Linked DNA regions of Homo sapiens. The protein of the gene in region 1 purifies or fractionates together with the protein of each later gene. This does not show direct contact. Each region holds a gene or a part of one and is shown on either strand. Other genes may lie near its edges.

Region 1 (3,423 bases):
TGTACCTTCCATTGGATAGTTAAAATAATTTCATTTTATAAGCCAATTTGAGTGGGAAAGATACAAAGCACACAGTTGTCTCCCCACATTAGGAAGAGTAGTGTGCATTCAGACATTCGGAATTTTTGCTAGTAGTTGGAGATGTTTCAGTGAGTGAATTAAAACAAAGTCTATTTAACTGACGTGATCTATTTTGTGTCTAAAACAGAGGAATTTATCTTGTCCTAGAAGTTCATGAACTATAAGATCTAAGTTTTTTTTTCTTTTTTAACAATAAAATGATTTTTTCTTAAAGTATCAAAGTTGGAATTGGCTAAAAGTGAAGTAGCATAACTCAGATATGTTGGAACTTGGTACTGAAGCAGGCTTTTTGGTAACAGAAATGACATTTTAAGGGGTAACTGTATATCCTGTTTTTAGTTCTTTGCCTCTCAGATTCTGTTAACTTAGTTTAAATTCACTGAATACCCTACCACTAAGGCGTTGCTCATTACAAAAGCATGTTAATTTCAATACAGGAAAACTCTTTTGTAGTTTTATATATGGATTGGGGAAAGTGACTTTGTTTTACTTTTCCTTTTTATTCCCCTCCATCCTCCAAACTTCCAATCTATATTATTTGTAATGAGAACTTTGGTGGGGGAAAAAAAGCATTAAGAGAATTTTGGATGTAAAGGCATCTGGTATCTGATGGACCAGCAGGTAGATGTGGTTGGATTGAGAAATTTTGGGTAAGGTAGATGATAGAAGAAAGAGATTTTAGGAGACACAGTTCTCTGTGGAACACTTTCTTTCATGTTCCTGTAACTAATTGATCAAGACCCTTTTAAACGCTTATCTTTGTCAGTTCCGCTTTTGAAAAAACTATTGCCCTAGGATTGTTTCTTCCATATGACAGATGAAGGTTATTGGCTCTGAGTCATTTTTGGCATTATCGTCACAGATAAAAAGATTGGCAATTAATCTCATAAAAAATCTGAATTATTCCAGATTGCTGCCGATTTTTGCCTAAGAAACAATATGTAAGTATATTTTATAAACCAAACTTTGTCAACCAATTCTATTGTACGTCTACCCACAGGCAACTTTGAATTTACTTCTCTAGTGCTAAATAAACATTTCAGCGATTTAATCCCCCAACTTGGGGGATGCATTATGAAAAGGTTTTCCTGGAGTCAAGGGGTTTTTCTTTCTCGCTAGTTTTGTGAAAATTTTTATATCAATAGGCAAATCATTATAACTTTTTAGGGGTTGATGGTTTTTAAGTATATTGGAAATTGTGGTGTCTAAGGATGATGTTCAGTGAAGAAAAGGGATCCACTTTTAGAAACCAGCATTGTTTGCTTTCAACTTTCATACTGTATGCTAACTCCTACGTTCCAAAATGTGCTCATTTGCAGACACAGGTATGCCTATATACATGGAAGTCTCAAATCTGAATTTTTATCCATCTCAATATGACCATTTCTCTCTGTTGTGAGCTGAACAGATTAAGTATATATCTGCCAGGTTGGGAAATATTTTGGTCTATCTTTTCCTGTCATCAGAACTTAATTTAAAAAAATTATCAAAGGTCAGATGTGACTACTACAGTAAGTTGGCTATCATAAAGAATATTCCATAAAATGTTTTATCTGCCATACAAAATTACTGGGTTTATGGCCGGATGTGGTGGCTCATGCCTGTAATCCCAGCAGTTCAGGATTACAGGTTATATACAGGTTATAACAATGGATACCAGGACATCAGAATATCTGATAAAGCAAATATTTATATGCTAATTTAAAATATCAAATTGCTACTGGACATAAAATACATCTGGAAGCTTGGGGTAAGAAGAAAGAAAAGAAGTGTTCCGTTCTGTTTTCAACTAAGGGTAAACGAAGTCCCAGAGTGTTTTCCCTGTAGGTCAAATTAAGGTAACATGTCTTTATTTGATCATCTATTGTACACCAGATACCTGGCTAAGGGCTTTCCTTTTTTCTCATGTAGTCTTCCAAATGTTCTTTGATAATTGTCACTATATTATAGATGACAAAGTGAAGACTTACGAGAAATTACTTTGCCCCAAGGTTACAACACTTAGATGGCTGTCCAAGGGCGGGGAAGAGCCCTGCAAATTCTGTGTCTTGAAGAAAGCAGTGGCCACGCAGTAGTTCCGTGCCCAGGATCTCCCAGAACTAGACTTGGCAACCACAGCTGGGCCAGCCTTTTTTGTTAGACCATTCTTCCTGACTCCTGCTTACCATCAGCACCCTTAAAATGACGAAATCAGGCTTAAGTTGCTTTTAGGTTACACAGACTGGAGTGTAGGCCCTCTCAGGCCAAACATCTTTCCTCTTCTGTGGTGCTAAAATTCTGTATGACCAGACAAGTATGGTAATAGGTTTTTTTTTTTTTTTTTTTTGTGCAAATGATTTTGTGTTTAGTAAAATAATGGCTAAACACATGGATCCATTCAAACGCACAAATGTGGAAAGTATTGACACGGAAGGAAAGGCTTTGAAGAATTACTGCCTCAGGAAGCAGTGCCATGGATGCGAATTTAACACAGTCTACTTCTTCCTAAAGGAATATCATCCCAAGGAATGTCAAAAATTAAAATCACCTTTTAATGTACTGGTTGTTGAGTGTTTCTGCTTTACCTCAAGTCATTCTGACCACTCTACATCCTGCTTCAAAGTGTTCTGACACTTAGATTTGGAATGGCTCTAATGATTCTTTGTACTTGAATGTGGTCTGTCAGGCCATGGGTGAGTGCCTTGCACATAGTAGACATTCAATAAATACTAAATGAAGGAATATGCATGCATCTTTGTGATGTTAGTAAAGGGTGCTTGATAAAAGAAAATTCAAAGGAATTCCCTTATGCTGTTACTTGAAACCAGGATCAACATCTTAAGCAAATGTCTCAACGTGTTTTATATGCAGTTACTTTTCAGAAGACATGATTTGACCTGAAGTTTACAAAATCAAACATTGTCATAGCAGAGGTCTGGTATTTAAAAACAAACAAAGTGTCTTAGAAAAGCTAGTGGCCGGGTGCGGTGGCTCATGCCTGTAATCCCAGCACTTTGGGAGGCCGAGGCAGGTGGATCACGAGGTCAGGAGATCGAGACCATCCTGGCTAATATGGTGAAACCTCGTCTCTACTAAAAGTACAAAAAACTAGCCGGGTGTGGTGGCGGGCGCCTGTAGTCCCAGCTACTTGGGAGGCTGAGGCAGGAGAATGGTGTGAACCCAGGAGGCAGAGCTTGCAGTGGGTGGAGATTGCGCCACTGCACTCCAGCCTGGGTGACAGTGCAAGACTCCATCTCAAAAAAAAAAAAAAAAAAAAAAGCTGATGGGTATATTTTACAGTAAAGAAAAAAATTTATTAATATCCAACCGACGTGGAAGCTGCTGGTTGCCTTAGGCTATTAC
Region 2 (3,654 bases), on another chromosome or scaffold:
ACAGTGGAGTCACCAACTAAGAGACTACAGTGACAAGCTCAGAAGTGTAGATTGCAGGTGTAGATTAGGAAACTGTTTTTTGGGGATTTAAAAACCACTGGAGTAAATGAGAGTTTGTGAGGACAGTGGGCCAAGATGGAACCCCAGGGAGCAATTTGGTTGGCAAGATGGAAGAGAACATACCTATAAAATGTAGAGATCAGTTAGGTAACTATGGAAGAGGTGGCGACAGTTGTAGGCCATCTAGAGAAGTAGGAATACCAGAATGAATGGCTTCACTGTCAGCACTATATTTTGGGCCTTACCAAGCCGTTCTTCCTGTGCCACCTCTCCCACAAACATGCTAGTTTTGCTTAAGATTTGTCACCTCTGTGTATCCTTTTCCTGCCTCTTAGTCATTTCTTCCTTCTTTGCACACTTGTTTTAGGTTGTCACTTGGTGATGGTGCCACTGTGCTTTTATTTTCCCCCTTTAAGACCATGAGCATCTTACAAGTTAAGCAACATTTTATTCATCTTTAATGTCCCCAGAACCCAAGTATATTATGATGCTTAATAAATGTCTGTTAAATGGCTAGCATGTAACAAATGTCAGGAATGTAGTAGGTGTCAAGTTAGATTGTGAAGTGGATGTGAAGTAGATGCACTTCTGTGCAAAAGCTATCATTCAGAGGCAGAGATCTATGCTTTCAAATCTTGAAATTCATATGGTCTGTGGCTGTGTATTTTATATGTTAGGATATTGCCTACAATTTACATCTTATGTCTTAGAATGCTTGCTGCTTTGAAGAAATTTGAAAAAGATTCTTAAGAAAAATTTAGTCTTTGAGCCCCTAATTTGCGAGCATGATTTTTTTTCTTAAACCACAGCAGTTCAAACATGTGGTTAAGGGGGAGCTCACCAGTGAGCAAGGTGATTATGAGCTGCTCATTTATAAGGTTAAAAGAAATCATTTATAAGGTTAAAAGAGAGGTCTATTCTTTTTTTTAAACAATGTAAATATGAACAGTTGTCTATTTCTGGCACATTCTGTGTTTTAATAGGAAATATTATTAGAAACTGAACACTTAAACTTAGCAGTGCCATTAAGATACTGACATACTGTAAATTAAAATTTTCATGAAATCTCCCCCCACTCCCCGTTTTTTTTTTTTTTTTTAGGAAGTTCAGTACCTGCTTCAAGTAGCAGCACTGTACCTGTCTCTCTGCCTTCTGGAGGCTCTCTAGGATTGGAAAAGTTCAAGAAACCCGAGGGAAGCTGGGACTGTGAATTGTGCCTAGTGCAGAATAAGGCAGACTCTACCAAATGTTTGGCATGTGAAAGTGCAAAGCCAGGCACAAAATCTGGGTTTAAAGGTAAGGCCAAAAAAATAAAAATAAAGGTGATGGTAAAGCGCCTTTTTGTAAGGCCATTTAAAAATGAAGTATTTGAGAACAGCTTCAGTGTTCACTCATTCTCTCTTGAAAATTAATATAAAATGAGATTATCCTGAGATGTTTTAGTTATATCTGTTTCTGAATATTGTAAGGTCATATTAGTTGCTTGTCAACAGTGAGGTATCTTTTCTCCAGGTGGGAAAAAAAATTTCTTGTGTCATTGAGCCTCAGAGAGTTTTTGTTTTTTGTTTTTAACTGCTAGCCCCCTAGGTGAACTGTTCTTTGTTTTTTTGTTTGTTTGTTTTTTTGTTTGTTTGTTTGTTTGTTTTTGAGACAGTTTTGTTCTTTTGCCCAGGCTGGAGTACGGGGGCGCGATCTCTGCTCACTGCAATCTCCGCCTCCCAGGTTCAAGCAATTCCCTGCCTCAGCCTCCCAAGTAGCTGGGATTACAGGTGTGAGCCACCGCGCCCAGATGAACTTACTGACTTTTATTTGACTGGGAATACACCTCTAAATTAAAAGCGATACAGGCTGTGGCTTTGGTTTCCCAAAGTAGGTCCCAGGAAAAGAACTCTTAATATTTTACTATATAAGTACAAAGGAAGACTCCCTCAAAGTAATTAATCCTAAACTAACTGGAGGCCAGATTTTTGTGTTTTTTTTGAGATGGTGTCTTGCTCTGTCGCCCAGGCCGGAGTGCAGTGGCCGATCTCTGCTCACTGCAAGCTCCGCCTCCTGGGTTCATGCCATTCTCCTGCTTCAGCCTCCCGAGTAGCTGGGACTACAGGAACCTGCCACCACGCCTAGCTAATTTTTTGTGTTTTTAGTAGAGACGGGGGTTTCACCATGTTAGCCAGGATGGTCTCAATCTCCTGACTTCGTGATCCACCCGCCTCGGCCTCCCAAAGTGCTGGGATTACAGGCGTGAGCCAACACGCCTGGTCTGGAGGCCAGATTTTTCAAGTCTTCTGTAAAAGAGTAAGCCCGCAAGGAGAAAATGTGTGAGGATTAATGTCTTGAAACAACTCAGACAGATATTTCATCTTCTTACTTATAAGTTGTAGCTAAATAAAGTGTACTCAGTGGACAGAGTGTAGACCCCTAGAACGGTGAGAGGATGGGATGGGGGGTAGATGATGAGAAATTAATTAATGGGCACAATGTACATTATTTGGGTGATGAATATACTAAAAGCCCAAACTTCACTGCCAGGCAACATATCCATGTAACAAAATTGCACTGGTAATCCTTAAATTTATACAAATTAAACAAAAATAATAGCAAGCTTTATCTACTTTGTAATTAGCTTTCAAACTCTTGATTGCAAACCAAAAGTCAGGAATAAACCTTTTATATTGTGAGCCATCACCTGCACAGCGTATATGTCTATATGATTGAAATCTGTTTTGCAAAATAATACTTGCCTCTGGTAGGTGTAAGGTTCCCTGGTATTTTCTGTTTTATTTTATTTTAAAAGAGAAGTGCTGGTTGCAGCCTGCTAAATTAATTGATGATTAATGGTATACAACTAGCAGTTTGAAAAACACTGCATTTAAGTGTTTTAGAAGTTTGTGCTTTCTGGTTCATTTTATCTCTTTCTGTAGCTGTTAATTCATGCTCCCCTTTTTATACTGTTCTCTACCTGTAGTGTGGTAATCACCATACTTTTAAGTATCTTAGTACTTCTTAATGATCCTTGTTTTGAGCCAGTAGGTCAAGTACTTCATTTCTGATTTCCTTAGCTGCAGAAAAGCATTATGAAACCAAGACTTTGATCTTGTCAGTATAATGCTTGCTCTCTTCTCTTTTCTCTTCTCTCCTCTCTCTTCTCTCCTGTCTTCTCTCTTCTCTCCTCTCCCCTCTCCCCTCTCCCCTCCCTTCTCCCCTCCCCTCTCCCCTCTTGTCTCCCCTCCCCTCTCGTCTCCCGTCTCCTCTGCTCTCCTCTGTTTTCTTTTCTTTATTTATTTTGAAGTGGAGTCTCACTGTTGACCGGGCTGGAGTGCTGTGGCGCAATCTTGGCTCACTGCAACTTCTACCTCCCGGGCTCAAGCAATTCTCCTGCCTCAGCCTCTCAAGCAGCTGAGACTACAGGCACAGACCACCATGCCTGGCTGATTTTTTTTGTATTTTTAGTAGAGATGGGGTTTCGCCATGTTGGCCAGGCTGGTCTTGAACTCCTGACCTCGGGTGATCTGCCCGCCTTGGCCTCCCAAAGTGCTGGGATTCCAAGCGTGAGCTACCACGCCCAGTCTGATGTTTAACTTTATAAACATTGCT

Evidence for each region. Proteins that work in one complex are often made in the same cells at the same time.
Region 2: the proteins of KPNA1 (region 1) and NUP153 purify together in Homo sapiens (affinity purification with mass spectrometry; 3 studies listed by BioGRID and IntAct, with this or other methods). This does not show direct contact.

Annotation. Positions count from the first base shown.
Region 1 is NC_000003.12:122,421,330-122,424,752, reverse strand, and holds the end of KPNA1 (importin subunit alpha-5), read left to right. Parts: 3' UTR 1-2,851; downstream 2,852-3,423. UniProt on the Homo sapiens protein: Functions in nuclear protein import as an adapter protein for nuclear receptor KPNB1. Binds specifically and directly to substrates containing either a simple or bipartite NLS motif.
Region 2 is NC_000006.12:17,630,352-17,634,005, reverse strand, and holds part of NUP153 (nuclear pore complex protein Nup153), read left to right. Parts: intron 1-1,161; coding exon 1,162-1,356; intron 1,357-3,654. UniProt on the Homo sapiens protein: Component of the nuclear pore complex (NPC), a complex required for the trafficking across the nuclear envelope. Functions as a scaffolding element in the nuclear phase of the NPC essential for normal nucleocytoplasmic transport of proteins and mRNAs.